Linked DNA regions of Homo sapiens. The protein of the gene in region 4 interacts with the protein of the main gene of each other region in a pairwise test. Each region holds a gene or a part of one and is shown on either strand. Other genes may lie near its edges.

Region 1 (3,270 bases), on a different chromosome or scaffold from region 4:
ATTTGAAACTTAAAGTATTTCTGAATGAATTTCTTAACTCAGTAGAAAAAAACGGAAGGAGTAAAAGATATTTGCTGCATATATATATTATATATACGTATATATAATATATATATATATATGTAGTGTTTTATCACTGCTCTTAACTGCCTTTGATAATTTCTCATAAACCATTGCTGCCACCTAGTTTTGGAAACTAAAGATCTTCCTATAAGCCCAATTTACTTGGCTAGAAAGCAAAAAAAAAAAAAAAAAAGTGTTAAGGTAGTGTGATATGTGGGAGTGAGAGGCAGTATAGGGCAGGGTAGAGGGAGAGAAGGTGAAAACATGTGTCTTTAATTAGTTATTTTTAAAATTAAAGTAAGTTTTGATTTGAATTGTTAACTAATTATCATTAATTCAGTATTTACAGCTTTTTAATATTAAAACTTCATGACAAAGACCTTAGTTTTGACATTGAAGTAAAACTTAATTAAGGCAGGCATTAGAATAATTTGCCAAATCTTCCAGCCCCTAAAAAGATACTATTTTAATGTAATTAAAAAACAAAAGCAGGTAACCCTCCTGCATTTTTTGTAAGGTGTACTTTAACTTAAAAAAATTAGTTCTCTAGTTGCAAAGGGTGGGAGGAGGAGAATTCTAACCCTGGTTTTAGAACTATTTTAATTTTTATAATAAATGATCTGTATCAATTTTTTAAAGTATTACGTTAATAAATGTAATACTTTGCTGAGCTTCTATGTGCTTATGCCTCTTCTGTATTTTAAAAAAGTTATTTCATTAGAGTATCAGAATTGAAAAGATTGGGTTAAAATACATTACTACATATGTAGGTCGTTACTCTTTCTGAGAGAGTGTATCCATTTATACTCCCTGTCATGCTGTTGTGGAACTATAAGTTTCATCCCACTTTATGATTTTTTTTCTCATATGTTGGGTTGGATAAATAGGAAAAACAATACACATTTTTTTCTAATTAAATCAAAACAAATTTGTATTTAATTTCATTTGATTATATTGCTTTCTTAGATCTATTTGCTGAGCACAATTTAAATGAGAAACATCTTTCTCCTCTGGAAAATGTAGGGTATCACATTTTATTTTGCAGAAGAAAACCTTTCCCAGGGTGGTACTGTGTCTGCTTGCAATGAAGATAGGAAGGAACTGGTTGACTTTTTTTTTTTTTTTTTTTTTTTTTTTTTTTAGTGTTAACTGGGGCATGAATGTGGCGGTTTCCATCACAGGTGCTGAAAACACTCTTGGAGGCAACTGCAGCTCTTTTGAAAGTTTTAATTGCGTCTTTCAATAATCCTTCCCCCAGGAGGAGCAAAGGCCAGTGCAGATGATGTATCAGGAGGCCACGTTTAAGCTCGCCCACGTGGGCGAGGTGCGCGCGCAGCTGCTGGAGCTGCCCTACGCCAGGAAGGAGCTGAGCCTGCTGGTGCTGCTGCCTGACGACGGCGTGGAGCTCAGCACGGTAAGACCCGGGCTGCGGGAAGAACCCAGGGACACCTTTGCGGGCAGAACTCGAGTGCCACTTCCACCTCTCATATTCACCTTCTGAGTTGGCGATGCGGCAGACGCACACTGTGCAGGCACTTGGCGTTGGGATCGAACTTTTGTTCAAGGCTGACTTTTCCCAATATTGTCTGCGTGATCTGCCAAACTACACATCTCAGTCCTCTGTTTTTTCATCGCTAGAAGGAGTGGGCGGCGGTTAAAATGCCTTTTAAAATAAATCAGGTAGGAGGAAGCTTATAAAAATCCTGCTAGTTTGATGAATGGCAGACTTTTAACTCTAAAAGCATAAATGACTGCTCGGGGTTATTGCCTCCTAGAGTTATGATGAGGATAAAATGTGGGTAATTCAGGTAACAAGCTTACCACATTGCCTGGCAACTAGTAAATGCTCTACAAATGTGATCCATTATTACAATCATCATTCTTAGCATTATGCTTTTAAAGTCTAGGAACCTGAAATAGAGAATGAGGAAGTCTTAACTTTGACCTAACAAGGCTGGGAGGGGGCATCCAGGGAGGTGTGAAGTCCAGTTCTCAGAGGGTGGGACCAGAGGCAGCCTCTGAGGGCACATCCAGGCACTCGGCTTCCTTTCAGCATGGATCTCCAGGGTGAGAGAGTCAACCATGGCAAATGGCAGGCAGTGGGACCCCATGACTTAAGAGGTCTGTGTGCGCAGCAGCCATTGGCTCTCCCTCTGCCCACCTTCCTGAAACTATGCTCCGGAAACTATGCAGAATCTCTCTGGGGCAGATAATCCTCTGGTAACCTCTCTGCTCCGGAAACTATGCAGAATCTCACCTGGGACAGATAATCCTGTTGGAGTGGCTCACACTGAGAGCCCTTTCGTTTCCAATCCTTTTCTTTACTAGCAATGGTTTGTTGTCTTTAAAAAGACTATGTTTGAAAAAAAAACACAGTCGCCTGGGCATTGACACTTGTCACAATACAAGATGTCTCTGGAGTTGTTGGATAAGGAGAGGACAGCCACAGCCTTCCTGCCTCTGACTGCTTGGTGTCTCTCCCCCTTGTCAAGGAAGTGGCACATGGGACATAGGACAAGTAAGAGTGCTCACAAGCTTCTGGCAGATGAAGGGGCCACTGATCCTATGTGAACAAACAACACCTACGTGCAAGGGGAGGAAGGGAACTGTGAGTGCCTGTGCGCTTGTACATGTGCACTGAAGTCGGAATCTTAAAGTCTAATTCTGGTCTTTCAGGTGGAAAAAAGTCTCACTTTTGAGAAACTCACAGCCTGGACCAAGCCAGACTGTATGAAGAGTACTGAGGTTGAAGTTCTCCTTCCAAAATTTAAACTACAAGAGGATTATGACATGGAATCTGTGCTTCGGCATTTGGGAATTGTTGATGCCTTCCAACAGGGCAAGGCTGACTTGTCGGCAATGTCAGCGGAGAGAGACCTGTGTCTGTCCAAGTTCGTGCACAAGAGTTTTGTGGAGGTGAATGAAGAAGGCACCGAGGCAGCGGCAGCGTCGAGCTGCTTTGTAGTTGCAGAGTGCTGCATGGAATCTGGCCCCAGGTTCTGTGCTGACCACCCTTTCCTTTTCTTCATCAGGCACAACAGAGCCAACAGCATTCTGTTCTGTGGCAGGTTCTCATCGCCATAAAGGGTGCACTTACCGTGCACTCGGCCATTTCCCTCTTCCTGTGTCCCCAGATCCCCACTACAGCTCCAAGAGGATGGGCCTAGAAAGCCAAGTGCAAAGATGAGGGCAGATTCTTTACCTGTC
Region 2 (3,110 bases), on a different chromosome or scaffold from region 4:
CTCTCACAGCAAAGTCAGACCTCAGATCTAGGATTCTGCTACCATTAACTTACTGTAGAACTTCTCTTAAACTAGCCATGACCTCTGGACCCATTCCTAATCTGTAAAGGGAGGAACAACCATCCCAGGAGTGTTCTGTGATTGCCCCGTGTTTTAGGAAAAACTCTCCTCAAATCGTGTTTTCCCTCTACTCTCATGCCATCACAATCATCAACACAGAAGACTTCAGTGACCAAATGTGTGTGGGGTTTCCCCACCAAAAGCAGTGGACATCAGCCGGGTGTCCTCTAATTCAGTTCCAACACTATCTACCCAGAGACATTGTCAGACCCCACAGGTTGAGGGTTCAGTCTCCAAGACTGCCCCCCTCAACCACACCAGGCACAAGTCTAGGCCTCCAGAACTTCTGACCAACTGGCTTCAAGTTGAGTTCCCACGACCTCCTTTTTGGGTTCAATTAATTTGCTAGAGTGGATCACAGAGCTCAGAGACACACTTACTTATGTTTACCGGTTTATTATAAAGGATATCGCAAAGGATACAGATGAAGAGATGCACATAGAGCAAGGAATGAGGGAAGGGGAAGGAGTGCAGAGCTTCCGTGCCCTCCCTGGGCACGCCACACTCCAGGAAGTGCCAGGTGTTCAGCTATCCAGAAGCTCTCTGAACCCTGTCCTCTTGGGTTTTTATGGAAGGTTCATGACATCAACATTCCTTCCCCTAGGATTGAGACCCTCTCATGGGAAGGTCTTTAGGACCCACTGTGAAAAAGGTGGGCGAACATTAGTGAAAGGATACCCAGAGGTCAGAGGCCTGTCCCAAGCCCTAACATACCCAGTATTCTAACAAAGACTGGAACAAGGACTATGAGAGTTACGAGTCAGGAATGCTGGATGAAAACCAATATATATCATAACACCACACCCAGCATTGGCACTCAGCACACAGGTGTTAGAAACAAGTTACTCCTAAGCACTCTTCCTGCGTGGCCTCCGCCCACAGCCGCCCCTCACAGGGCTTTCAGCCTGCCAGTAGAAATCACTCGAGGGCCCACACATGCAAGGCCCTGGGCACACGGCACAGTCCTGACTCAAAGAGTTGGCCTCAGCTCCTGGGGGCTGCCCTGGCCTCATTCACCCTTGAACTCCCCAACTGCCACCCACCTTAGGCATTCTTTAAGCATCTGCTGCCAGGTCAAGACCACCACCTTCCGGGACCTGCAAGCCCCACCCAGCTCTGACTGGCACATGACCAGCTATGAGGGCCAGTCTGGCAGGACCGTATCCCGTGAGCTCACACCCTGCTGAGAAAACAGCACAGAAAGGGTGTATTTCTGGGTTGGGCACAGTGGCTCACACCTGTAATCCCAGCACTTTGGGAAGCTGAGGCAGGAGGACTGCTTGAAACCAGAAGGCTGAAGCCAGCACGGGCAACAAAGCAATACCCCATTTCTACAAAAATAAAAAATTAGCCAGGCGTGGTGGTGCGCGACTGTAGTCCCAGCTATTCAGGAGGCTGAGGCAGGAGGTCTCCTGGAGCCCAGGAGTTTGAGGCTGCAGTGAGCTGTGATCGCAACACTGCACTCCAGCCTGGGTGAGAGAGCAAGACCACAGCTCTAAAGAAAAAAAAAAAAAAAAAAGGAAAGGGTGTGTTTCTTTGCCTGGTACTTGCCTATTCCCAGTTCAACTCCTGAAAAAAAGAAACAATTTGATATATAAATACAGAGGTTTTTCAATAGATCATGTTTATTCCCAAGCCCCAACCAGACATGTTCTACCCCTCAAGATCCCTGAGACCCAGGCTGTGGGCTGGAAAATGAAGGCACAGTGTCAAGAGCGCCCCTGTTGGCATATGAAGACCCAGGAGTGCTGACCTTCAGGGATCTGCCTGCACTGCCCATGGGCCTGGCACAGCAGGAGGCACTCCTGTTTCTGTCCCTTCTGTCTCTGGTCTTCAGAGCAAGGTTTCTGCTGAGATGCTAAGGAAGCTGAGTCCTTTGTCAGCCCTGACTCTGACTGAGAGGCAGACAGGAGCCAAGGCCCCATTGAAGCTCCAGGATGACGATGGCCCTCAGGGGAACAGACGCAAAACCAGGCACGGGCCTGCCTTCCAGCTGGAATCTACCTGTCAGGCCCAGAACTTCTGTGCAGTTGGAGTGGGCTCCCCAGAAGGAAAAACAATACAGCTGAGTCTAGTGCTAGGGGACAGAGAACTGGGGGCTCAAGAAAGCACCCCAAAACGGGCTGCCAGGTTAAGGATCCATGGGGCTGAAGAGAAGTTTGCCCCAGAGCCCAAAGCCCAGTCTGCAGTCAGTGGGTGGAGATGAGAGGCAGCCTGGGCCCCTGCAGGGGCTGGGCCCTGAATCCTGAGGCCACCGTCACCTCAACATCACTTCCTACAGCAGAAAAAGGTCACTCTTCTTTCCAAAGGTGGTAACACAGCCTCAGAGCTTGCTCCGCGGGGCCTCTGCCAGGGGCCGCTGCAACCGCCACACCACCCTGACTGGCTCAGCAGCGCGGTCCAGCTCACGGAGGCCACCTAGGTCTTGGGTCTGGCTGTACTGCTGCAGGGCCGGCTGGAGCACCGTGATGGGAATGCTGAAGTTCAGGTGGGGGTAGGTGGCCCCCGTATTATTGTCCCGGGTGTTGCTGGTGATTATGCCTGTTGAGGAGTCAGAGAGCAAAAGAGGATGTGAGCCAGGGGGCAGAAAGGCTGGAGAAGGGAGGAGGACCATCTCCACCCTGGAGCCCCCAGGGCCTGGTAGGGCTGGATACCACCCCACGTGGTGACAGACGCTGAGCTTCTAGACATGAACACCTGCTGCCCACACCCTTTCCTGGCTTTACGTTTTCTCCTTAACACTCTCAAAATCTAACACACTAGATAGTTCACTTATTTCACTTGTTATCTTTCTCTCGACCTAGTGTCAGCTCCATAAGGGCAGGACTTTGAGGTTTTGTTCATGCAGTCTCCCCAGTACCTGAAACAGTGCCTTGTGCCAAGTAGGCGCGCAACAAAGGCTTGTTGAATGAATGAATGAATGAATGAATGAATGAATGAATGAATGAATGAATCAGACCCACAGACATATTTTGTTTGGCCTGCTCGGT
Region 3 (3,951 bases), about 31 Mb from region 4:
AGTGACAAGACGAAGGAAAAGGACATTGAGGCCGGGTGCGGTGGCTCACGCTTGTAATCCCAGCACTTTGGGAGGCCGAGGCGGGCGGATCACTTGAGGCCAGGAATTTGAGAACAGCCTGGCCAACGTGGTGAAACCCCGACTCTACCAAAAATACAAAAATTAGCCGGGCACAGTGGTGCACAGCTGTGATCCCAGCTACTTGGGAAGCTGAGGCACGAGAATCGCTTGAACCAGGGAAGCGGAGGACGCAGTGAGCAGAGATGGCGCTACTGCACTCTAGCTTTGGGGACAGAGCAAGACTCCGTCTCAAAAAAAAAGAAAAAAAAAAAAAAGACGTCTCCAGACAAGAGTCTAAAGGTGTCCCTGGTGATCAACCTTTGTCCTTCCTGGTAGAGAGGGGAGGAGGGCACCTTTGTACCTTTAGGTCCTGCTTTGAGGCAAATCAGGGAAGAACAGAGAGCTTTTCCGGTATCAGCTTCATTGATCTCAGCTCAAAATAATCCTACACCAAGGTCGCATATTTCAGAGGGGCATATGCTGGTCTCCTACGGGGGTCTCTCTTGGGGGTGATAAAAATACCCCGAAACTAGCAAGGGGTGATGGTTGTCCAACATGTGCATGTACTAATGTCACTGAATTGTGCATTTTTATTTTTTATTTATGTATTCTAGAACAATTCTTAACGTCCAAAGATAACGTCTTTCCTTAACGTCGAAAGATGCCTTGTTGTGATATTACAGCAGTCATTCCTGCTCACTACGGGCAGGCAGACAGTGCAGAAAAGGTGAAGCACAAAAACTAAAAAGGAAAATCTCTCCTTGAACCACTGCGAACAGGTTGGTGGTTTTGCTTGGAATATTTTTGGAGCGTGTGGGTAGTTGGTTAAACTTAGAAATATATTTTTTTGTGCGTGGGTAGTTGGCCAAACCGCCGTGGGGCAGAATGCAGCAAACTCCGAGGATGATCCAGGGTCTGCAGGCCTGGAGAGCACACACGTGTCGGCCCCACCTCTGCAAACTCTGTCCCTCCCCTACAGCGGACAAAAAGCCGGTCAGGGGGACAAAGGCCTGCGGCCGCGCCTGCGCGCAAGCCTTTGGGGCGCTCCCGGTACCCCGGCCTGGCCCCGCCCCCTGGCGCGGCGCGCCGACGTCGCGGTGACGTCACGGAGTTGCCATGGCGTCGCTGAGCGGCCTGGCGTCGGCGCTGGAGTCGTACAGGGGCCGGGACCGCCTGGTGAGGCAGGGGCGGACCGGGGCCGGAGGTCCTAGAGTTTGGCCCAAGCTCAGAGACTGGGAAACGGGCCAGAGAGGGGACGGGGTCGCCCAGGATACTCCGTCGCAGAGGCCCCGTCCGAGCTAGGCTCAAATGCGGTGCCCTAGCATTGGACATTTATGTATTTATTTATTTTGGCTGGAGTGCAGTGGTGCGATCTCTGCTCACTGCAGCCTCCGCTTCCCGGGTTCAAGCGATTCTCCTGCCTCAGCACTCCCGAGTAGCTGGGACTACAGGCGCCCGCCACCACTCCCTGCTATTTTTTTGTATTTTTAGTAGAGACGGAGTTTCATCGTGTTAGCCAGGATGGTCTCGATCTCCTGGCCTCAAGCGATCCACCTGCCTCGGCCTCCCAAAGTGCTGGGATTACAGGCGTGAGCCACCGCGTCTGGCCAGCGTTGGACATTTAGATAGTTTCTGCCAACCCAACCTGTCTGGACATTGACACACTGGCCAGATTCCCGTGTTTGGACGTTTTGGATCCGACCAGGCCACTGAAGTTGTCCTGAACAATCTCGTGTTGGGATTTGGGATGTTGCAGGGCTCCCCTGTGGCTGGACATTCACTTCCAACCAGATTCCCTATAGTTGGGCATTTAGGTTGTTTCAGCCAACCTAGACCAAAGAACACGCCATGGCCTGGGCCCTGCCATGCCTAAGCAGCGATGGGTTCCAACAAAACCCCAGTTGGTCATTTAGATCGTCTCTGCCAACCCAGCCTGGCTGGACGTTTACATACCAAACAGATTCCCATGTTTGGACATTTAGGATCTGACCGGGCCACTGTAGTTGGTCCCTGGGTTGTCCCAAACAATCTCATGTGGGGATTTAGGATATTGCAAGACTCTCCCTATGGCTGGACAGTTTTTAGTTCCAATCAAGTCCCATATGGTTGAACATTTAGGTTATGCCATCCATGCCCCTGAGTCTGGACTCTTAGCTTGTCCCCACCAGTCTCTTATAGGTAGACATTCAGGTTGTACCAGGCGGTGTACTGGTGGCTAGGCATTTAGATTCCATTCAAATATCTTATGATTGGGGGGGTGGGTTAACAAATCTCCCCCGAGTTGAACATTCAGATTGCAGTGTTTTGCCATTATAATGGGGCTGGAAAGGAATTACAAGTAAAAATAAATAAAACAACAGGAACAAGCAATTTCTGAAAAGCAGGTAAAATAAAGATATAAGGGAGGCCAGGCGTGGTGGCTCGCGCCTGTGATCCTAGCACTTTGGGAGGCTGAGCTGGGTGGATTGTCTGAGCTCAGGAGTTTGAGACCAGCCTGGGAAAAGTGATGAAACCTCGTCTCTACTAAAATACAAAAATTAGCCGGATGTGGTGGTGCGTGCCTGTAGTCCCAGCTACTTGGAAGGCTGAGGCGGGAGAATTGCTTGAACCTGGGATGCAGAGGTTGCAGTGAGCTCACACCTTTGCACTCGAGCCTGGGGAGCAGAGCAAGACTCTGTCTCCAAAAGAAAAAAGATCTGAGTAGTGAAGATGACCTATTTCAGAAGGCTCCACATCACCTACTGAGTAGGTTCTTTCTCTCTAAAGTAATTCTACCAAATTATCCTGTTGTTCACTGGGTTGAGGCCTGATCACCTGTGCCCACCATTCAGCACATCCAAAGGCTTTGGTCCAGGCAGGTAGATGTAAATATACACTTTAGCTGTGGCTTCCTGCCACCTGGGAAAAGAAGGACCTAGGAGGTGGGAAGTAAGGAGCTTTGTTTTCTTTGTTCCTGTCACATCTGTTCCCAAAGGCTGTGCCCTTCAGTTACATCAATGATGTCATGTTTCTTCATTTGTCCCACCTCCAAGTATGTTTTTAAACTTCCAGCTTTTTTTTTCTTTTTCTTTTTCTTTTTTTAGACAGGGTCTCGCCCTGTTGCCCAGGCTGGAGTGTAGTAGCACGATTACAGCTCACTACAGTCTGGAACTCCTGGGCTCAAGTGATCCTCCAGCATCAGCCTCCCAAGTAACCACCATGCCCTGTTAACTTAAAAAAATTTTTGGTAGCCAGGCGCGGTGGCTTACGCCTGTAATCCCAGCACTTTGGGAGGCCGAGGCGGGTGGATCATGAGGTCAGGAGATCAAGACCATCCTGGCTAAAATGGTGAAACCCCATCTCTACTAAAAATACAAAAAATTAGGTGGGCTTGGTGGCGGGTGCCTGTAGTCCCAGCTACTCGGGAGGCTGAGGCAGGAGAATCGCATGAACCCGGGAGGTGGAGCTTGCAGTGAGCCGAGATCGCGCCACCGCACTCCAGCCTAGGTGACGGAGCAAGACTCCGTCTCAAAAAAAAAAATTTTTTTGGTAGACACAGGGTCTTGCTATGTTGCCCAGGCTGGTCTCAAACTCCTGGTGTGAAGGCATCCTCTCACCTCGGTTTCTCAAAGTGCTGGGGTTACAGGTGTGAGCCACTGTGCCCCACCTAAACTTTCAGCTTTTACTGTCACTTTGTAGATTTAGAATCTTCCAAACTCTTGGGTCAGGCACGGTGGCTCATGCCTGTAATCCCAGCACTTTGGGAGGCTAAGGCAGGTGGATCACTGAGGTTATGAGTTTGAGACCAGCCTAGCCAACCTGGTGAAACCCTGTCTCTACAAAAAATATAAAAATTAGCAGGGTGTGGTGGTGGGCGCCTGTAATCCCAGCTACTGGGGAGGCTGAGGCACA
Region 4 (3,500 bases):
AAAAAAAGAATATTAGCCAGGCATGGTGGCGGGCACCTTTAGTCCCAGCTACTCGGGAGGCTGAGGCAGGAGAATGGCGTGAACCTGGGAGGCAGAGGTTGCAGTGAGCCGAGATGGCGCCACTGCACTCCAGCCTGGGTGACATAGCGAGACTCCCTCTAAAAACAAAATAAAAACAAAACAAAAACTCCTTATCTTCTAATCTCAACATCTGGGTCATCTTGGGGTCAGTCTCCTTATCATCTTTTCGCTTGGAAATGGCAGGCTGGGCTCAGTGGCTCATGCCTGTAATCCCAGCACTTTGGGAAGCTGAGGTGGGTGGATCACTTGAGGTCAGGAGTTCAAGACTAGCCTGGCCAACATGGTGAAACCCCGTCTGTACTAAAAATACAAAAATTTTCCCGGCGTGGTGGTGCATGCCTGTAATCCCAGCTGCTGGAGAGCCTGAGGCAGGAGAATCGCTTGAACCCAGGAGGCAGAGGTTGCAGTGAGCCTACATCACGCCATTGCACTCCAGCCTTGGTGACAAGAGCGAGACTCTGTCTCAAAAAAAAGAAAACGGCTTCACTTTCCTGTTTCTTTGTATTTTGAGTTAGTTTGGATTGTTTCTTGGATATTGGGATATAGGAATAAGATGTGGATACTCTGGATTCTATCATATAGTTCCAAAGAGTGTTGAGTTTCGTGTTTTGGTAGCTTAGTTGGAATTAGTTTTTTTGGTTTTTCTGTTTTTATTTTTATTTTTTTGTAGAGATGAGGTCTTGCTATGTTGCCCAGTCTGGTCTTCAACTCTTGAACTCAAGCGATCCTCCTGACTCGGCCTCCCAATGTGCTGGGACTACAAGCGTGAACCACTGTGCCTGGCTTCTTGCTGATTTACAGACCATACATGCACCCCCAGCAAAAGATTTAAAAACTAATCTTCAGCCAGGGCAACACACTGAGACCTTGTCTCTAACAAAAATTAGCTGGGTGTGATGAATGACCACACTCCCAGCTACTCTGGAGGCTGAGGTGGGAGGATGGCTCGAACCAGGGAGGTCAAAACTGCAGTGAGCTGTGGTCGTGCCACTGCACCCAGCCTGGGTGACAGTGCAAGAACCCATCTCAAAACAAAAACAACAACAAAAACATACATCTCCCAGCAAGAGATTAGGGCAGAGTTGATACACAGAATTCGGGACTCCTCGCTCTGGCTCTCCCCTCTTTGGAATATCCCCCCTCACTTCCCGGCAGCTTTGGTCACCTTGGACTCTATCCTGTGGCTCTTCAAGCACAATTTCAGTCTGCCCTCAGGCTGAAAGTTTTCAAAACCATTTTCAAAAACACCGAGAGAGTGTTCTGCCACTCTCCTAAGTGGTCACTCCCTCCAGAATCTGCCCAGTGCCTTCAGATAATTGTTTGTTTCTTGTCCAGCCAGCGTATGTAGTTGTCCGTGGGAGGGTTGGCCCTTTAGGACTGAACCAGAAGCAAAATATTTCATACACTGATTTCTGCACAGGGCCCAGAGCCTGGTGCTGGGAACCCAGTCTTGACTAGGACAGTCCCAGGCCCTGTTGTCATGGCGTTCCCAACTCAGTGGGGAAGACAGACAGTAAACTATTTCTTTCTGTTTTGTCCATTAACATATTCCCAGGTCCCTTTCTTTCTTTCCCTCCCCTTTCTCCCTCCCCTCCCTCCCTCTCCTCCCTTCCTCCTTCCCCTCCCTCCCTCTCCTCCCTTCCTCCTTCCCCTCCTTCCCCTCCTTCTCCCTCTCCTCCCTGTCCTCCCTCTCCATCCTTGCTGAGGGCCCTGGTCCCTCTGGCTAAGATTAGGCCTAGATATTTGACCTGCTGTAGGCAAAGCTGGGCCTTTGACCTAGACACCTTGTACCCTTGATTAGCGAGAAAGTTCAAGAGATCTAGAGTAGCCTGCTGGCTCGAGGCTTCTGAACTGGGAGCCAAAAGTAAATCATCCATATATTGAAGGACCAGAGTGCCTGGACTTGAGAAGTGGCCTAGATCTTGGGCCAGTGCCTGACCAAACAGATGAGGCCTATCCCTAAACCCTTGGGGCAAGACCGTCCACATAATTTGGGACGTGTGGTCTGTGGGATCCTCAAAGGCAAAGAGAAACTGGGAGTCAGAGTGTAGGGGAATACAGAAGAAGGCATCCTTGAGGTCTAGAACTGTGAACCATTCTGCTGCCTCTGTTATTTGAGAGAGCAGGGTATAGGTGTTGGTTACAGCTGGATATAGAGAAATTACTGCCTCATTGATGAGTCTAAGATCTTGCACTAGTCTCCACTGACCATTTAGTTTTTGTACTCCTAGAATTGGGGTGTTGTAGGGACTGCTGCATTTCCTTACTAAGCCTGGAGCTTTTAAATGTTTAACAATATTCTGTAATCGTTTATGAGCTTCAGGCTTTAAGGGATATTGCCTTTGATAAGGAAAAGCAGTGGGATCTTTTAACCTGATTTGTAATGGGCGGGCATTTTTTGCCCTTCCAAATTGTCCTTCCAATGCCCAGACTTCAGGGTTGATTCCCTCCACAAGTAGGGGGACAACAAATGGGTAACTTGTTCCCCATATTGATGTAGATAATAGCTCCAGCCTTGGCTAATATGTCCCTGCCTAATAAGGGTGTGGAACTTTCAGGCATAATAAGAAAGGCATGTGAAAAGAGCAAAGTCTCCCAATTACAACTGAGAGGTGGGAGAAATACCTGGTTACAGGCTGTCCCAGGATTCATCGGATGGTAACAGACCTTGAGGACAGTCGTCCAGGACAGGAGATTAACACTGAGAAGGCCGCGCCAGTGTCCAGGAGGAAGTCAGTTTCCTGGCCCTCAATGGTTAAACGTACCCGGGGCTCAGTGAGGGTGATGACATGAGCTGGCGCTTGCCCCGGGCACCCTCTGTCCTGTTGTTGGATCATCTGGTTGGGGGCTTCTGACCTAGGGAACCTTCGTCCGCTGGGGCAGTGCACCTTCCAGTGATTGCCTCGGCATAGTGGACATGGACGAGGGGGCAGCTTGTTTCTCATTGGACAATCTTTTTTAAAGTGTCCTAGTAAACCGCATGATAACAAGCCCTACCGGGTGATTGGCCTCTACTATCTGTCCTCTCTGAACCACTAAGGTTTGTTAGTCTGAGGGCCATAACTAAGGCTGCGGCCTTTCTCCAATCTCACTTTTCCTTTTGGGCCTGTTCCTCTTGGTCCCTATTATAGAACACTGAGGTTGCCAGGTTTTGATAATGCCTCCAAATTTTGTTCAGGGCCCAGGGCTTGCTTTTGGAGCTTTCTCCTGATATCTGCGGCTGATTGGATAATAAACTTATCTTTTAGAATCAATTGACCCTTGAGTGATTCGGGTGACCGGGGAGTATATTTTCTTAAGGCCTCCTATAGCTGCTCGAGGAAGGCAGAAGGATTTTCTTCCTTTCCCTGAGTTATGGTGGACATCATTGAATAATTCATGGGCTTTTTCTAATTCTCCTTAGTCCTTCTAGAACACAG
Region 5 (4,171 bases), on a different chromosome or scaffold from region 4:
ACATGTCGTCACAGGCAAAAACTCTAATAAAGTGATATTAGGACCTGAAAACCATGGGCTTTTTTTAGTGCTCATAGAAGTCTGAAACAATGACTCAGGCAATGATTCTCAATATGGTGGGTGGAGATTTCGGGGTCCGGGGGAGAAGTAGCTGTCAGAATCTAACTATGTCAACATTTTCAAACCACAGAGCAACCATCCGTAGTACCCAGTAAGCCTCTTAATTCCTAGCAGGGGTTTGTCTGAGAATTGACTCAACAAATGTAGTAAATAAATGATAGTAGTGGGCATGTATTAACCTTCCAACCTGTTAAGGGATGGGGTGAGGGAAGGTTGAGAATGATTGTTTCAAGACTCAAACCGATCCATTTTGAACACCCATGCTCTCTTGATTGATTCTGATAAATGTTTAAATTTTTACCTTTACAAATTATTGTTAATCAACATACCTGTAGATCTTGATGGAATAAATTAAAAGTGTAGACTAAATTTTTTTTCAACATACCTGACAAAGCCAAATAGTTGATATCGTGGCCAGCTAACCGGCAGAAGCTTCCTGACTGGCCAAATCCACTCAGCCTGGCATAAATAAGCCTTGGATTTTCCCGCTGCAGAATCTCTGGGCCCAGCTGGAGTTTCTCCATGACACCTTAAGAGAAAAGTAACGATCTTCTTAAGAGAGTATGAATTGAGGATGGAGATAATCCCTTCTCTGAGACAAACATAAAATAGCACCATTGCAAGTAATATTAATAACATTTGCTGTAGGCTAATGGCATGTTTACAGCAGTTAAGGACTCAAAGAGTGAAGCCACCATTTCTGGAATGTGTGGCTTCTTCCCAGGATGTAATTTCTCCCAGTACATCTCTGTTTCCCTCTAGGTTTATCCAAGCCTATTTATTCAATCCCCAGAGCAGGGTCTCATCCCTTTAGTAAATCCCTTTTCTCTTTTTCTATACCGCATCAGTGTTTACCACATCCCACCTTAGCTGCACTTGCTTGTACATGCATACACTTATCTTCCCTATCAGCTCATGAGCTCCTCCTGCAGAATTTACACCTGATGTTTCCACAGGCGCTAAAGTGCCTAGCATCAGTACCTTCACGAAAAAGTTTAGCACCCATCTGTAGAAAGAGTGGTTAGTGACAATAGCACCTGAGAGTTTTTAAGCTATCAACAAGTATAGTATTTATAGCACAAACCCCAGGTAACCAGCACCTGAAATTTCCTGGGATTAAAAGTAATCAAAATTACATAATAAACTCACTATCTTTACCTTCCTAAGGCTAAAATAAATCACAGAAAACCTCTAGTCATCTACCTAAACACCAGTCACAACTCCTCACCCGGAGGCTATATCCGTATTCCCAGCCGACCTTCCTCCTAATTACAAGACCTTGGACAAGCCTCCCTCATCTTAAATGGAGCATTCTTAAATTATTACATAATCTTAATTATTAAATCATTATTGTTACAAGCCTCAAATACAGCTGTGAGGGTTAAATGAGTTAACGCATTTAAATAAGCCGGCTGTGCCGTAGGCATTCATTCATTCACCATTTACCGATTTCCCACTATAGACCAGGCAATGCTTTGGATTTCTACTTGAACAAAGTTATTCTGGCAGCTGTCTGAGAATCCACTGGAGTGATACCAGCCCCAAACACCAGTTTTTAAAAGGCTGTCACACCAGTGTCAAGGCAGTTGCAGCAGGTATGGAGAGAAATAGTCCGAGTGGGCTAAGGAGCAAAATGACTGTATTGATGATCATTGAAATTGGATGTGAAAGGAAGACTGGAGTCCATGATGAAGTACAAGTTTGAGATTCAGGCATTCACTGAAATAAATAATACAGAAGGTGGAGATGCTGTTTTAGAAGGAAGAAGGAAAGGCTCATTTTGGGATTTGTGGAAGCTGCCTGGCGGGCAGCCTTGACGGCGATGCCCAGGACCTGTGTATGCCAGCGTCTGCCGCTCTGAAAGGGGGAAGTCTACAAAAAGGTGAAAATGATGGGAATGGGTAACTGGGCTTCAGGGAGCAGATGCTGAGACTTAGAACGCCAGCATTTCAGGCAGGGAGGAGCGTTAGCCTGGGCCCGTGGATGGCTTGAGGGTACAGCACTCCAAAACGGTAGCCGAATGACCGCCTATATGCAGTTTTCCAGGAAGGGAATCCTATGGCTTTCATTAGATTCTCACAGGGTTCAAGACCCTCAATTAATTAAGAAAGGCAAATACGGAACGTTTCTTAGAAAAAAAAGGAGGAATTTGGGAAGGAGTCAGAGAGGCAAAAGGAGAAACCGGGCAACAGCAGTATCTCAGAACCCAAGTTTTGGACAATCCAGTTTGGGAAGAATGATCACTAACAATACCCTAGGAGGCAAAAATCTGGAAGGCTGGGGCCGACAAGGGTTCTTGCGGCAACAGGGCAAAGGTGTGGCGGGTGCAGCCTCGATCGAACGGCCAGGCCCCTCCCCTCCGCGGGAACTTCCCGAGAGCAGCCCGCGGGGCCCGGGCTCACCGCGGCGGAAGGGCTCCAGCAGCACATCCGACCGCTTGCACAGACGCCGCAGCACGGCGGCTCCCCGCGGCTGCTTCAGGTCCAGCACTAGCGAGCGCTTGCCCCGGCCCAAGCGGCTCACGTCGTAGCGGGAGCCGGGCCGGTCCACGCGTACCACACGCGCCCCGAAGTCAGCCAGGACCATAGCACAGAACGGGCCCGGGGCCAGGCCGGACAGCTCCACGACCGAGATGCCCTGCAGTGCCATGGCGCTTCCCAGTGCCCCGCTGAAGGAAACTGAGCAGCCCTTAGCCCCAGCCCAGCAGCCTGCAAGAAGCCCTCCCAATCCCCGGCGCCACGCCCCCAGCCGCGGCGCCGCGCCCCAAAGGCACCACCCCCGTCCCTCTTTTGCGGGCCTGCGCAAGCCCGCGGAGTCTGCGCACTGGGCGCTTCCCCACCCCCGGCCTCCCGGGACCGCCAGTGCCAAATGCAGTAGGTTGCTTTCCTTTTTGTGCAACCTAAATTCCTGAGTCTTAAATTGCAGGGACTGACCTTTGGAGCTCCTGCCTGTTACCGTCCTCTCTGGACGCTTTTATTGTACCAGGGCGATCCCCAGCCCAACTGTACCATTCGAGTCCCTACTCCTGCCTTGCTCTAGGGAAATAAAATAACGTAAACACGTAAGAACAATGCGAAAGCGTTTTCTTCCCTAGGCTGCAGATTGTCTTCTTCACCGCCCCTGCTTAGCTAGCTAGCTAGCTGGGAATTTAATCCAGAAACGGCTTGCGATACCTCCTAGATGCACTCGTTTTGAGTTACAAACTCCGCGGATTACATGTCTTTTTAAAAAAGTTTAGACTACACTAGGAAAATTATTTTAGTATCAGAAGAATATCAGGGGTGTAGTACTCATCAGAGCTAAATGAGAGCGCTTTAAAAATGTTAGTTTGTCTTCCGCCATTTCTACAGAAAGCTGCAATTTCAGGTTTTCAACCTAATAGGTGATATTTAAGAAAAAAAAAAAGCAATCGCAAATAGCCCCACTGCTTTTACAAATCATTTTTTCTCTTCTAGGTATAGCCTGTCAGGTGGCCTAATGTAATTTTTGACATCTCTAGGAATTTTAATAGAACCAGAAATGGGTGCCAGAGATATGCCTGCACTAATCTTAAGTGGGGATTTATGTATTTCTCAAGCAAGTGATTAAAGCAAAACTAGGCACGATTGAAATCAAGATCTTTTAGGCAAGAAAGTCATGATGAGTTTTAGAATTATTTTAGGACTCTGTGGCTTTCTCTTCATAGAAATAGAAAAAAAAATTGTATAAAACCACAAAAGGTCCTGAATAGCCAAAGCAACACTGAACAAAAAGAACAAAGCAGGAAGCAACACACTACCAGAATTCAAATTATACTACCAAGGTGTAGTAACCAAAACAGCATTCTATTGGCATAAAATAGACACAAAGACCAATGGAACAGAATAAAGAACCCCAAAATAAATCCATATATTTACAGCCAGCTGATTATCAATAAAAACACCAAGAACATATATTAAGGACATTCTATTCAATAAGTAGTGCTGGAAAAACTGGAAATCCATATGCAGAAGAATGAAACTAGACCCCTATCCCTCACCATACACAAAAATCAACTCAGAATGGATTAAAA
Region 6 (3,500 bases), on a different chromosome or scaffold from region 4:
CCTATACATTACACACTCATAGAAAGGCTGTTCTACACAATTCTAGCATATAAATGCCACAAACATTATGTCTAATCCAGAAGAAATGGCTCATGCTCACTCAGAGTCATGTGTCTAGAATAGTGTCAGTTATGTGATTTGAAAGCTGCTTGGACATAAAGAATCAACCCTAGCATCTTATATATAACAAACACTATTTTATCTCATTTCGATACCTCTTCTAATTTTTCCTTAGACTCTTTTCTATCTACAGCTTTTTCTCAGTGTCCCTGTGAAGAAGACAGAGAAGGTATTAGTCTTCCTACTTTGCATTTAAAGAGACTGAGGCCTCAGAAATAAAATAACTTGTGAAAGATCAGTGATATGGTTTGGCTGTTTCCCCACCCAAATATCTTCTTGAATTATAGCTCCTATAATCCCCACATGTCATGGGAGGGGCCTGGTGGGAGGTAATTGAATCATGGGGCTGGATTTTCCAGTGCTGTTCTTGTGAGAGTGAATGAGTCTCATGAGATCTGATGGGTTTATTTATTTATTTATTTTGAGATGGAGTCTCACTCTGTCGCCCAGGCTGGAGTGCAGTTGGTTCTGGACTCATGTGTTCTGGTAGCTTCTAAAGATAGACATTCTCTATTTTCAATTTAACGTAAAGAACAAAATAGTTGGTTCTCATAAATTGCTTGCTATATTTAAGAGAATTTTCTAGGTTTAAAAATACAATTATGCATTTTTTTCTTTTTATAATGTATGTAAAGCTTAGCATGATCTCAGCTCACTGTAACTTCTGTCTCCCCAGTTCAAGCAATTCTTCTGCCTCAGCCTCCTGAGTAGCTGGAATTACAGGCATGTGCCACCACACCCAGCTCATTTTTGTATTTTTAGTAGAAACGGGGTTTCACCATGTTGGCCAGGCTGGTCTCAAACTCCTGACCTCAGGTGATCCACCCACCTTGGCCTCCCAAAGTGCTGGGATTACAGCCATGAGCCACCATGCCTGGCCGAGCTGATGGTTTTATAAAGGGCAGTTCCCTGCATGTGCTCTCTTACCTGCTGCCATTTAAAACATGCCTTTGCTCCTCCTTCACCTTTCACCATGATTGTGAGGCCTCCCCAACCATGTGGAACTGGAAGTCCATTAAGCCTGTTTTTCTTTATAAATTATCTAGTCTGAAGTATTTCTTTTACAGTATGAAAATGGACTAATACAGTAAATTGGTACCTGGTAGTGGGACGCTGCTATAAAGATACCCGAAAATGTGGAAGTGACTTTGGAACTGAATAATAGGCAGAGGTTGGAACAGTTTGGAGGGCTTAGAAGAAGACAGGAAGATGTGGGAAAGTTTGGAACTTCCTAGAGACATCTTGAATGGCTTTGACTAAAATTTTGATAGTAATATGGACAATGAAGTCCAGGCTGAGGTGGTCTCAGATGGAGATGAGGAACTTGTTGGCAACTAGAATGAAGGTGACTCTTGCTATGTTTTAGTAAGGAGACTGGCAGTATTTTGCCCCTCCCTTAGAGATCTGTGGAACTTTGAACTTGAGAAAGATGATTTAGAGTATCTGGCAGAAGAAATTTCTAAGCAGCAAAGCATTCAAGAGGTGACTTGGGGGCTGTTAACAGCATTCAGTTTTATGTATTCAAAAATATATGGTTTAAAATTGAAACTTATTTTTAAAAGGGGAGCAGAGCATAATAAAAGTCTGGAAAATTTGCAGCCTGATGATGTGATGATAGAAAAGAAAAACCAATTTTCTGAGGAGAAATTCAAGCTGGCTGCAGAAATTTGCATATGTAACGAGGAGCCAAATGTTAATTGCCAAGACAATGGGGAAAATGATTCCAGGGCATATCAGACATCTTCTCTGCAGACCCTCCCATCATAGGACTGTAGGCCTAAGATGCAGGGCACCAGGGCCTTGCTGCTTTGTGCAGTCTCAGGACTGGTTGCCCTGTGTTCCAGCCATGGCTAAAAGGGGCCAAAGTACAGCTCAGATTGTAGCTTCAGAGGGTGCAAGCCTCAAAGCTTGGCAGCTTCCACATGGTGTTGGGCATGTGGATGTGCAGAAGATAAGAACTGAGATTTGGGAAGTTCTGCCTAGATTTCAGAGGATGTATAGAAACACTTGGATGTCCAGGCAGAAATCTGCTTAAAGGGGCAGAGCCCTAATGGAGAACCTCTGCTAGGACAGTGCAGCAGGAAAATGTAGGGTTGGAGCCTTCACACAGAGTCCCCACTGGGGCACTGCCTAGTGGAGCTGTGAGAAGAGGGCCATCATCCTCCAGACTCCAGAATGGTAGATCCACTGACAGCTTGCACTGTGCACGTGGAAAAGCCACAGACACTCAACATTAGCCTGTGGAAGCAGCCAGAAGAGAGGCTGTACCCTGAAAAGCCACAGAGGCAGAGCTGCCCAAGACCATGGGAACCCACCTCTTGCATCAGTGTGACCTGGATGTGAGATATGGAGTCAAAAAGATCATTTTGGAGCTTTAAGATTTGACTGCTCTGCTGGATTTTAGACTTGCATGGGGCCGTAGCACCTTTGATTTGTCTAATTTCTCCCATTTGGAATGGCGGTATTTACCCAATGCCTGTATCCCCATTGTATCTAGGAAGTAACTAACTTGCTTTTGATTTTACAGGCTCATAGGTAGAAGGGACTTGCCTTGTCTCAGATGAGACTTTGGACTGTGAATTTTTGAGTTAATGCTGAAATTAGTTATGACTTTGAGGAACTGTTGGGAAGGCATGATTGGTTTTGAAATGTGAGGACATGAGATTTGTGAGGGGCCAGGAGTGGAGTGATATGGTTTGGCTGTGTCCCCAACCAAACCTCATCTTGAATTTTAGCTCCCATAATCCCCACATGTCATAGGAGGGTCCTGGTGGGAGGTAATTGAATCATGGGGGAGCGGGTTTCACCATGCTGTTCTCATGATAGTGAAAAAGTCTCATGAGATCCGATGGTCTTATAAAGGGCAGTTCCCCTGCACACACTCTCTTGCCTGCCACCATGTAAGACTTGCCTTTGCTCCTCCTTTGCCTTCTGCCATAATTGTGAGGCCCCTTCAGCTATGTGGAACTGGGAGTCCATTAAACCTTTTTTTCTTTATAAGTTACCCAGTCTCAGGTATTTCTTCATAGCACTATGAAAATGGACTAATACAATCAGGTAGTAAGTTATTATGAGAGATGGTTCTGAACTCATGTGTCCTGGTAGCTTCTAAAGATAGACATTCTCATTTTCAATTTCAGGTAAAGAACACAATAGTTGGTTCTCATAAATGACTTGCCATATTGAACTCGAGATAATTTTGTAGGTTGAAAAATACAATTATATATTTTTAATATAATATATGTAAATCTTAGTAGTCTATTATTTTGGTTAGAGGTTTAATATAAGGTTTATAATTAAAGAAAAGGATACCTTCCTTGTTCAAAGCTTTTCCTAAATTTGGAAGTGAAGAACTTAGCACAATATATTTGTATATACTT

What was found.
Region 1: the proteins of ECH1 (region 4) and SERPINB9 interact in a two-hybrid assay, tested with the Homo sapiens proteins (one large-scale study listed by BioGRID and IntAct).
Region 2: the proteins of ECH1 (region 4) and TYSND1 come close enough for resonance energy transfer, tested with the Homo sapiens proteins (one large-scale study listed by BioGRID).
Region 3: the proteins of ECH1 (region 4) and PEX11G come close enough for resonance energy transfer, tested with the Homo sapiens proteins (one large-scale study listed by BioGRID).
Region 5: the proteins of ECH1 (region 4) and AMACR come close enough for resonance energy transfer, tested with the Homo sapiens proteins (one large-scale study listed by BioGRID).
Region 6: the proteins of ECH1 (region 4) and HAO2 come close enough for resonance energy transfer, tested with the Homo sapiens proteins (one large-scale study listed by BioGRID).

Annotation. Positions count from the first base shown.
Region 1 is NC_000006.12:2,890,040-2,893,309, reverse strand, and holds part of SERPINB9 (serpin B9), read left to right. Parts: intron 1-1,321; coding exon 1,322-1,477; intron 1,478-2,739; coding exon 2,740-3,147; 3' UTR 3,148-3,270. UniProt on the Homo sapiens protein: Granzyme B inhibitor.
Region 2 is NC_000010.11:70,137,481-70,140,590, forward strand, and holds the end of TYSND1 (peroxisomal leader peptide-processing protease), read right to left. Parts: intron 2,662-3,110; coding exon 2,444-2,661; 3' UTR 501-2,443; downstream 1-500. UniProt on the Homo sapiens protein: Peroxisomal protease that mediates both the removal of the leader peptide from proteins containing a PTS2 target sequence and processes several PTS1-containing proteins.
Region 3 is NC_000019.10:7,486,236-7,490,186, reverse strand, and holds the start of PEX11G (peroxisomal membrane protein 11C), read left to right. Parts: upstream 1-1,151; 5' UTR 1,152-1,176; coding exon 1,177-1,236; intron 1,237-3,951. UniProt on the Homo sapiens protein: Promotes membrane protrusion and elongation on the peroxisomal surface.
Region 4 is NC_000019.10:38,825,295-38,828,794, reverse strand, and holds part of ECH1 (delta(3,5)-Delta(2,4)-dienoyl-CoA isomerase, mitochondrial precursor), read left to right. Parts: intron 1-3,500. UniProt on the Homo sapiens protein: Isomerization of 3-trans,5-cis-dienoyl-CoA to 2-trans,4-trans-dienoyl-CoA.
Region 5 is NC_000005.10:34,005,251-34,009,421, forward strand, and holds the start of AMACR (alpha-methylacyl-CoA racemase), read right to left. Parts: upstream 2,801-4,171; 5' UTR 2,770-2,800; coding exon 2,523-2,769; intron 650-2,522; coding exon 506-649; intron 1-505. UniProt on the Homo sapiens protein: Catalyzes the interconversion of (R)- and (S)-stereoisomers of alpha-methyl-branched-chain fatty acyl-CoA esters.
Region 6 is NC_000001.11:119,375,285-119,378,784, reverse strand, and holds part of HAO2 (2-Hydroxyacid oxidase 2), read right to left. Parts: intron 1-3,500. UniProt on the Homo sapiens protein: Oxidase that catalyzes the oxidation of medium and long chain hydroxyacids such as 2-hydroxyhexadecanoate and 2-hydroxyoctanoate, to the correspondong 2-oxoacids.